Linked DNA regions of Homo sapiens: region 1 is linked to region 2. Evidence: fine-mapped expression QTL. A gene starts in region 2. The other region holds a variant in brackets. All regions are shown on one strand. Distances are between the middles of the regions. Region 1 overlaps STX16 (syntaxin 16). Region 2 holds the start of NPEPL1 (aminopeptidase like 1).

Region 1 (5,366 bases), 33 kb after region 2:
GGAGAATCGCTTGAACTGGGGAGGCAGAGGTTGCAGTGAGCCGAGATCGCGCCACTGCACTCTAGCCTGGGCAACAGAGTGAGACTCTGTCTCAAAAAAATAAAAATAAATGATACAAAAAATATAGAGATAAAAACACTTGAGAATCACATCACCCTGATACTGTTGTTAAGTTTCACTGATTTTCCTTTTTTCTCAACTAACATACATACTCTGAGGGGAAGAAAAAGGAGGGGAGCAATCCGTCCCTCCCTGCCTTCTGTGAGCACTGTACTGAGCACTGCTACTGACCTGGCCCATGCCAGTCCCAAGAACAATCCTTCAGAGGAGCGCCGCTCCCTATTTCACCAACATGGACACTGGGGCCCGGCCCAGGCACTCCCAGATGTGCAGTCCTCCAGGCAGTGTGGTTTGGGGGCTTGACATTTGTTATCTTGTGACTTTTAAAATAATTCTTGAGTTTAAAAACTCCCAGAGATTTCTTTGTCATAAGACAGGAAGTAGATTAAAGACAGAGAACAAAGGAGAGGGCCAGACACTTCCCTGGGTAAGAGAACCAATGGTGGGCTCGGGTCCTCCTCAGGGAACACCTTACTTAGTGTTTTCTGAGAAGGAAAAGTGACATCTCCAGGGTACTCAGGCTAGAGGAGGAGAATGACAATCAAACATGGACAGACTGCAGGAAGCCTCTGAAGTGAGGCCGTCAGATGCCTTTACTCTGGGAGATGCAAGTGATATTCACTCAGGGACATTTGCTCAGGCCTCCCCTATAAAGGGGTGGCTAACATCTAATCCACTCTGGAGCTGGGTGTTCACTATTTCCAGAGATGCCAATGTGAGGCCCTGCGTCAGCTTCAAAGAAGCCTCTGGACACTGTCCCCAACCACACCCCCTGCTCCTAGGCCAGTACCTGGCACTTCAGAGTCCTGAACGCACAATCACAACCAGCTGAGTGATCCGACAAGAAACGAGTGGAATGAATGCACGAGGTAAATAAAATGTACGTCACAGACAATTGTGGAAGCCACACTTCATGAAAAAGATAACGGCACTGCACAAAAGAGCAAAAGAGGCAAGTGAAACGCACAAGGAAATGAGGTGGCCGTGGGCACCCACGATGAGGCAGCAACCTGCATTTCTAATAGCACTGGGGTGAGCGTGGAGGAGATAGTGCTCTCTACGCAGGGCCTCTGATCACAGAGCGTGAAGACTCCCTTTTAAGCCCTTAGAGGTGAAACATAAGAAAAGCAAAAGGGCCTGCCAAGTTCATGCAGTGAGTAGCCAGTTTCTGGAACTTGCTGCCTGAAAAAGGAAGTAGGAAAGACTGGAAATCGGTTCAGACAGCAGACCCCGAAGTAATTATGACCACTTATGTGCCCCTCCTTGGAACATTATTCAAATGGTTCTTCAACCTAAGTGGTTCCATAATTTGTTACCCTCCCTCGCATCCTATACACTTCCTTTTGAGGTCATAAGCTCCATATCTTCAAACTGTTCAGCCAGTAGCAACATCTATTTTAACTCAGAACGCCTGCTCTCCAAGCCCCCAAGCCCTCTCCAGGGCCCCGTGCCCAGGCGGGGAGCTGGCAGTGAGGTTCCTGAATGGGAAAGGAAACCCCCACACAGGCATGACCATGACACCTGGCTCAGTCAGCTACCCGTTGAGTGGTGTTTTTTTTTTTTAACTAATTGTTTTTAGTGGCAAAGTATACATGCACATGGTTTAAAAATATATATCCACCCTAAGAAAAGGGTTTGCAATAGAAAGGAAGTTTTCTATCCCAGATGTTTCTTGGGGTGTATCCACTGTTAACAGTTTCTTGTGTATCTTTTCAGGAATTTTTTAAGCACACACAAGCATAAATATGAGTTATTTTTCCTGAAAAAAAAAAAAAAAAAAAAAAAAAAGGAGCAGGAATCATATTATCCATGCTGCTCTGCATCTGGGTCTTTCCACTCCGCCATGTGTCTGGGGCTTATTCCACTGCAGCTCTCATGGATGGGCCTCACTATTTACCTGTTACAGAGGGTCAGAGATGCTACACAATATATTTAACCAGTTCCCAATGAAGGCTATTTAGGCTGTGCTCAGTCTGTTGTCATTATCAACTAGTTAAGGTTTTTAGAATATATAGGTAGATCTGAATCTACTAGTTAGGACCCCACTGGTTTTAAGGACAGTGATCCTCCTAATCCTACTTTACTATTCATACTTCTAAATGAAAACAAACAAGAACAACCCTCACCTCTCCATCACTCTACTTAAAAGGTCTATACTCAGGAAAAATATTCTTACCCCTTCAATGCTGAAACAGACAATAGACACAAACATTAACAACAGTTTTAATCTCATTTTTTCTCAACCCTTTTACTCCGGCTACTAAAATAAAGTGCTTTGAATATATATTCTCTCCACCTTCTGGGCAAGATGCTAGTAGCTAATAAAAAGGCCAAAGGCACCCCCAGCTAGGAGATGCAGAACTGGGCCCAGGTGACAATAGCTCCAGGTGCATCCACTGGGTGTCATCTCATTCCAGACAGGAGTGACAAGGAAGACCCTCCCACAGTTGCCGTGGCTACAGTCCTTCTCATTTAGGGCCTTCACAGACATGCTGGCCTTCTATACTGTCTACCTGAGGAAGTGCACGACTCACTTCTCAGAAATCAGGAAGCTACAGACATTAATTCTCAAAACATTCTGGCTTCCTTGAAGAAAGTGTTCAACCTTTACTGCTTCCAAAGTTAAGACACTTTCCCAAGACTAGTAAACGATCTTCCCAAAGCCTTTTTTAAATCATCAGTTCACATGGTGTGAAAATAGATTAAATTCTACATATTAAACTGTTAAAAAAATTATAAAGTAATCAAAACAAATGCTAAATATGTATAAGCTGTTAGCATTTTATATATGAGCAAAGACTTCAGGAAAAGTAGGTATTTTATAAACTCAAATTACCCAACATATAAAAATATTCAAAACACAATACCTCGTCCAGCTCCTGAAGAGACATGTTGTCCCCATCAGTCCCATCCAGTTGGGGAAAGCACAAAGAAAGCAGCATGGGACAGACAGACAGACAAGGCATGGTCAGTTGAGAAAACACTGAGATTTTAAGCTGACTAAATATAAAGATCCACTAAGCAAGGCATTTTAAAATCTC[CTTT/T]TTTTTTTTTAAATTAAGCTACATCAATATATGCTTTAATTTTTATTTACTGTGGTTGTTTTGAAAATGAGCTAGGAAACAAGCAAAAAATGACTGTAAATATTAAAATACACTGGAAACAGATAAAACACACTTGCTTTGGTTTCACTAAAATATGCTGTTAATCTGTTTCATAAACACCAAATATCACATACAATACCACATTCTATTTTCCCTCAGGAAAATAAAATAAGAGAGCAGAGCTAAAATGTAATTTTATCATGTTAAATAAATGTATATTTTAACATGTAAATCAGACCTGCAAATGCAACAAAATTAAAAAATAAATGACCCACAAAAATTGTCTGTAGCTGTATTCAGATAACATGTGAGTGACCACATATGTAAGGTCTCTGCAAATTACATCCCGCAGACACGGCTTCATCCCTGGTAGTAAGAGAGCTGAGAAACCACTCTTTCCCGGAGAGAGACACAGGTGGCAAAATAAAAGAAAAACTCTTACCATCTCTTGGTATGTATTATTATTAGCTAGAAAGCATACAGTTATTCATAAGGCTCTTATAAAAGCAAGCAAACGAGACAAAACAAAAGGTAAGAATAATTTTTTTCTTTTAAGGGGAGGGGGAAGGGAGAAGCATGACACCAGAGGGTTAAGTTTCAATTGAAAAGTAAAGGTTCTTTTTTAGATCAACATGGAACTCTATCTTCTGGACAGACATTTACTAATGACAGATAATCTAAACAACTAGGTCTTTTTTTTGTACAGTATTGATCACTGAAATAATTAGTGGTGAAATTCAATAATCAATTGTGTTTTTTTATGTTTAGCAGTAAATTTAGAAAATAAAACATAACTTTCTTATTTAAAAATAGTGCAAATGAAGCTGCTCTATCAGGGTCAAAATATTATTAAACAATGATAGCAATAAAAATGTAATCAAACTTTACTCCACGTAAAAATTCAATTAGATGACATTATGAAAAGCTGCAAATCCTCTTCATTCCTTCCACAATTTTCTATGAGAGCAAAAAAGAACTCTATACACACCCTGCCATAATAGTAGTACTAGACGATATTAATAAATCAAATGGAAAGCTGATTTAATTACCTTTTACTTTACAAAGAAAAAATGTTTTTATTTTTTAAAAGCTTAACATTAAGAGAACATTAAAATCTTTTATTAATAAAACATGATGCAAGACAAAATCCCTAACTTGAGTATCTCAGTCTTCTTCCTATTCTGCAGCGGCTCCCTGGCATTTAATCTTTGAACGATGTACTATTGCAAACCTCGGTTAAAATCTCTGCTGCACATGTGCCTATGCTCTTGGATTATTAACCGAGCACACACACCCTGATCTTCTGATTTCTACAATTATTAGTTGATAAGAGGTGAAATCAGAATCATGGGATTCTAGGGCTAGAAATAAGTCTTTTCTTACAAATAAGAAAACTAAGCTTCAAAATGTATAAATGCATTGCTTGAAGCCACAGAGCTTGTTAATGGTCAGACTGGGGACAGACCCAGGTGTTCAGGTCTCTTTCCACCCCACCCTCCAGCCTCTCTAATTTTATTAACAATTCAGGGAATTACTTGTGATAGGCAGCTACCACCACATCAGGAATATTAAATTAAGGTCACCTTTTCAAAGACCCTCCCCACCATTCTGCTATTTAAAAATAGAAGGCTTTCAAAATTCTGTCTGCCACCAAATTACCAGGAAATTTAGTCAAGACCTGAATTAAAACATTTAGAATTACCATCAAGAAAGACCAAAATAAAGCCAAATGAAAACACGTTACTACACATCATCACCTTCTAAATCTTTATAATGTCTAAATCTAGGTTTTTGACCTTCCAATGGCATGCAATCAAGCAAACACTGAAAACTCCAAGTAGCATGTGGAATTTATAGTCTAAAGAACTTTCTACATAAAACTGAAAAATAAGTGGAAACCCATCTGTGTTTACTCAGGAAGTCTGGAAAAGTTGAGCAAAATGAGTTGGAAACACAGGTCTATGCTATAGTGATATTTACTTTATTTCCGTTACTGCCAAAATAAAAGTTTGCTTCACTTTTATCCAACAAAGTACCCTTATTCTCAAAGTAAGCCTCACTGCTCCCATGGAATCTTTAAAAGCAGAAAAGCAAGTAGATCTAAAGAGAAATATATAATGATTTCATACTTGGATTCTAAAG
Region 2 (5,366 bases):
ACTTCAAGGAGGGACGGCAACACCCCATCCAGCAGTCCTTAGAAAACAATGTCAGGATGGGGGCAAAAACTCTGTCTCCATGGGTTAAGAGGGAAAAGAGGATTAAGCAAGGCAAACCAGTTAGACTTTTTTAAAAGCTCAGAGACGAAGGGAAAAAAGGGGAGCTATCTCATGCTGGTGAAGATGGAAGAATTTGGGTTGAGGGGCAGTGGTTACAGGCCTCAGAGAGCACACAGTGAAAGAAATGAGGTGTGGCCCAAGTGCTGATGTGGGAGAGCTTGCCTGGGTGAAGGCGACAGCCTTCCAGAGCCAGAAGTGAAGAATGAGCGCTGACACATGAGAAAAGACAACCTGGGTGGCGCTGTGGGCTCGGGGACTGGAGGTGGCAGGCGCAGAGGCTGGGACCGCTGCCGTGGGGACAGGAGCCTGATGTCAGGCCCATCCAAGGATCTGGAGCTGGGAAATCACTTCCGGCCTTGCAGCCTCAAAAGGATCATTCTCAGCATTGAGTGAAATAACACATGTAGAAGTGCTCCCTGTAAAGGGTGCAGCAACACACATGCACACACACCACACACACACCACTCATGCACACACTAGCACTCATACACACACAGCAACACACACAACACACACACACACCACTCATGCACACACCAGCACTCATACACACAGCAACACATGCTGCTCATGCACACACCAGTACTCACACACAACAACACACACCACACATGCACACACCACACATGCACACCACACACACACACCACTCATGCACACACCAGCAAACACACACACACAGCAACACATACCACACGTACACCACACACACCACTCATGCACACACCAGCAAACATACACAGCAACACATACCACACACACACACACATCACACATGCACACACACACCCCCCACACATACAACACATGCACATACACTCATACACGCACAGCAACACACATGTGCACGCACATACACACACACGTGCATACATCACACACGTGCACACGGAGCTCACATAAACGGGCAGGGTTATTTGGAAAACAGCATGGACGTTCCTGGCACTGATTACGTGCTCAACAAACACTGCCTGTATACAACAGAATCCTGAAGTCACAGACCACGCTGAGGCAGAGGCAGGGGGCCTGGGTTTGGAAAAGCCTCTGCCGCTTCCCAGGAACCAAAGCTCCTGGGAAGGGCAGGAACCCCCTCCTGCCCCCGCAACAAGCTTTTCCCTCTCCCGACCTCCCTCCCACCTGCCCGATCTTGCCCGGGCCCAGGGGCAGTGTCTGCCCTTCCAGACACCCACCTGCAATGTGGACACCTCCACCGGCCCGTTGTCTTGTCCCACCAGGAAAAACTCCACGGTGACCGTCTTCTTCTCCAAGCGCCGAGAGGCACCTGAGCGGTGGGTGAACAGCGGGAAGGCCCGGGCCAGGGCACAGGCGGAAGCAAAGACCTCCGGCTGCTCGCAGACCATCTGTGGCACATAGGGAGACGGCGTGAGGGGTGCAAGGGCCGCCACCAGGGAGTGCAGGGAGCTGCTCTTTGAACGCCTCCGGAACATCAGCTCCCTGGCAGGTGACATCTAGACAGAGATGTCCCACAGCAGCCGCCACCCCATCCCTCAGGTCATCCCCGGAACCATGGGACCACCATTGGTCATGCTCCAAGAGAAATAACACATTGGCCACCAGATGTCAACAGCCTGACCAGCCATGAAAATGAGGGACAGAGGGACAGACACAAAGTGGGCCTCAGGAAATCTAGGTTTGAGTCTCTGATTTGCCACCAAAACTGATCTGGGGCAAATCCCCGCGTCTCTCTGGACCTGTTTCCCTGTCTACAGAGCAGGGATGATAACGTCCACAGCCCTCTGGGCGTGCGCTGCAGTCTGAGCAGGGCTGTGAGCTCCCCAGGCCCGAGCTCACCGCTGCCCGACTAGGAGCACCGTGGCTGCCTCCTCTCGAAGCACTCACCACAATGCAGCGATGCGCTCCGGGCGGCAGGCAGGTCCGCACCAGCCGCGTGATGAAGTGGGCGGCCGAGGGGCTGTTGTGCCGGCTCACCCTGCAGGGCAGGGCAGCCACGGTGGCGTAGTTCAGGTAGAGGGGACAGCTGTCCGTGGGGTTGGGGTTGAGCGTGCTCAGGGCAGCCTGCCAGAGCTAGATCAGAAGGGAGAGACAAGACACAGAGGCTTCAAACAGCGGCCACGTGCCAGGAGGCCCTGCCCTGCAGCCACGGCCACAACCACTCCTGCAGTCCTGGAAGGGCACTGCGCAGCTCCCGGCCACCGTTTTCCCATCCTTAGGGAGATGTGTCGCCTCTCTGCAGAGCTAACTGTCTCTAGGCTGGCTCGCATCCCCCTGGTGGGATGAAGCCACCAAGCCTGGAAGGGCCAGGCTGGGGGCTGCTTTGCTTCCAACACTCGGATAGGGCTTAGGCGGCTTCCACCAGAGAGGGGGCAGGGGCCAGGTGTCCCCAAGGAAAGGCAGCTGGGGACACTGCCATGGGAACTTCTGGAAGCCAGGGCCTGTCGCCAGGCGGGGCCGACGCGCGGCCCTGGGAGCGGCCACGTCTCCCCCCCCGCCGTCCGCAGGTGTCGCGGCCTCGCGGGGCGCAGGGCTGGGCTGACAGGAGGACCACCGCGCCGCACCGGCGACGGGGCCTGGGGCTGGGCCTCCGCGGGCGAGGACTGGCCTGGCGGCTGAGCCCTTCAGGGAGGCGGCCCGGCCTCGTTGGGCCCGGCCCGGCGGCGGCGGGGGTGCGGCGGGCGAGGCGGGGCCTCCGCGGGCCGCCCGGGCCTGGGCTTCCGCGGCGCGGGTCGCATGGCGGCCGGCGGCCCGCTCACCTCCTCGGTGACCCGGGGCTGCAGCTTCCCGCGGACGTGGCTCCAGGGCACGCGGTGCAGGTGGTGCAGCTGCCCGAGCAGCAGCAGGGGCCGGCTCTGTGGGTCCGAGTCCCCCGCGCTCGCCTGGAACTGCAGCCCCACGTTCGCCATCTTCCTGCCGGCCCACGCCCCGGCCCTGCCCGGCCCGGCCCGGCCCGCCGCTCGGCCCCCTTCGCCCCGCTCCGGCCCGGCCTCGGCACCGCCCCGGCCCTGCCCGGCAGCCCGCGGGCCCCGCCTCCCCCGCCGCTCCGGGCTGCTCGCGAGACGTGCAGGGCCCGCCCGGGGCGCGAGGGGGCGCCGGCCAGGCCGGGCGGAAGGGTGCGGGCAGGCCCGGCCGGGCAGGCCCGAAGCCGGCCCCGAGCAGGCCCTGCCGAGTAGGGCCCGCGCGCCCGGCCTCCAGCGGCGCCGCCCCTGGGCCTAGCGGCCCTGCCCAACACGCGGGGCGACGTGGCCCGCCAGGCAGCGCCTCCCGGACGGGCCTGGCCTCCAGTGGGGCCTGGGCCGACGTAGGCCCAAGCCCACCCGACGCAGTTCCGCCCGGTCAGGCCTCAGGCTGGCCCCAAGCAGGTCCCCCGAGGTCCCTTAGCAGCTGCTTTTGATCCCCAGGGACCCCGCACCCTGGCCACCCATCAGTTAGGCCGGAGGGGCCCAGTGACTCTTGGACCTGAGTCAGGTCCTTTTGTCCCACTGCCTGGCATGGTGGGTACAGCGTGGACGGTCACTTCCTCCTCACTTAATCGGAGGTTCCCTGGCGTTTATCAGACCCCGCTCTGCCAGGCACTGCCCTGGATGTGAGAGGGTGACAGGGACGTGGCTTTCCATCCAGGGCACTGCTGCTGGGATGGCCAGTTACAAATCCAGGCACTGCCTGGCTGCATGGGGGGCCTTCCCGCCCACCCCTTTGCAAGAAGGGTCATCTGGCACAGTCTAAGCAGGAAAGGAGGGACGAGATGAGACGAGGAAGGAGCAGGGTGACCTGAGTCACCTCAGTCGCCTTACAGGGGAGGAAAGGCCATCGGGGGTGTGGGGCAGGAGCCGGGTGGTGGAGGAGCCAGGGGTGAGCCTTGAGTGGATGGTGGAGGCGGAGGGTCCCACCCACAGGGTCAGATGCAAGGGTCAGGGAATGACGATGCATTGGGGAAGCTCCACCCAGGAGTCATTTAAAAGCAAAAATCTGTTACCCAACATCCTGATTGCTCAAGGGCCTTTGGTTGGTACCCTCCTCTGTTACCTCCATGTAGTTCCATAAGCCACTCCTGTTATTTTGAGTTTCTTCTTCATAACCAGCCTAAAAATGAAAAAAAAAAAAAAAAAAAAAGAAAAGAAAAAAAGAAAAAAAAGCACTGTCAACTCCCTGGCGTGGTGTGAGAGGTTTTCCACCACTGACCTCCCAGCTGGCCCCCTAGCTCCCTAACTTGTAGCCCCGGGAGCCACAAGCCAGGCTTTCACCTTCCCTGTCCACAGGCTCCAGGTCTGTCTGCTCAGCTCTGAGCCATGGTCCCTGGCCCCTTGGAAACACCACAGACTAGAGCTTCAGCATCCTGAAGGCAGGTCTTTTTGACTTTTTGTTGTTTTTTTTTCCTCCAGTTCCTGGCACAGAGCAGGCACTCAAAAAAAAAAAAAAAAAAAAAAAAAAAAAAAAAAAAAGCTGTTGAATGACTGAAAGGCATTCCTTTGAAACCCTCAGCTTTCCCGACATAAAAGTCAACGCTAATTGGATCTTATTTTCTTCAAAAGATTTTACAGCAGCTGAATGTTTTCACACATTGGTAAAGGGTACTAACAGTGTGTATGAAGATCTCTCACTCTTTTTTCTGTTTGCAAATACGTTGCAGACAGGCACACGGCACTCCAGAGGACTGAGACAGCTGGAGGATCTTCCTAGAGGGTGAGAGACTAAGGCCATGCCCTGACAGATGTAATAGGACTTCCACAGGCGAAGAGATTGAGAAAGAAGGCCTTCCACGTGGGAGAAGTCCTGGGAGGAAACACAGACGCAGAATATGTCCAGCAGGCTCTGAAACCTGTGTGGTTAGAACAGAAGGTTCCTGGAAAATAGGAGTGGGTGAGGAGATCGACTGGGGAGCCTGGCTCACTCTATAGAATTTTGCAAACTGAAGAGGGATCCAAGAAGCATTTCAGAAAGCCAGATCTAGCAGGTTTGTGTACAAGGAGTTGGAAATGAGATAAACTGTTGGTGGAGAGGTCATTTTGGAGATGTTTTTCTTTTAGAATTCTTTCATATTTAAGAATAGACTGAATAACCCTGACAGTCCCCAGAAAGGATGAACAAAATGATTCAATTCAACCAACATTTGTTGAGCACTTAGTGTACACAAAGCAAGAGAAAACGTTAGATGCTTGTTAAAAGCAAATATTGGTGATTCTGGTTTTAAGCCACCCCCGAATTGAAGAAATCCAAACTAAACAGAACGCTAAGGAATTATTCCACTTCAAATGCCTGCCAATTTCCTC

The links. PIP is the estimated chance that this variant, and not a neighbour inherited with it, causes the effect. A credible set is the group of variants that fine-mapping cannot tell apart.
Region 1: its variant is the best candidate, but not a certain one, in a credible set for the expression of NPEPL1 in whole blood (TOPMed, PIP 0.65).

The regions. Positions count from the first base shown.
Region 1 is chr20:58,657,256-58,662,621 of GRCh38, reverse strand. It overlaps STX16 (syntaxin 16), which reads right to left. Exons shown (of 9, transcript NM_001001433.3): 2 at 2,988-2,999. It overlaps STX16-NPEPL1 (STX16-NPEPL1 readthrough (NMD candidate)), which reads right to left. Exons shown (of 23, transcript NR_037945.1): 2 at 2,988-2,999. Among named protein-coding and RNA genes, the nearest start is that of STX16, 8.7 kb to the right of the region's middle. RefSeq lists an enhancer at 856-1,355. The variant CTTT/T (reference allele first, on the strand shown) is at 3,162.
Region 2 is chr20:58,690,537-58,695,902 of GRCh38, reverse strand. NPEPL1 (aminopeptidase like 1) reads right to left here and starts at 3,103. Exons shown (of 12, transcript NM_024663.4): 1 at 2,853-3,103; 2 at 1,981-2,166; 3 at 1,311-1,481. The coding sequence starts at 3,002. STX16-NPEPL1 (STX16-NPEPL1 readthrough (NMD candidate)) reads right to left here. Exons shown (of 23, transcript NR_037945.1): 9 at 4,676-4,869; 10 at 4,341-4,498; 11 at 4,123-4,179; 12 at 1,981-2,166; 13 at 1,311-1,481. RefSeq lists enhancers at 917-1,524, 2,965-3,670 and silencers at 2,588-2,677, 2,698-2,777, 2,808-2,967, 2,978-3,467.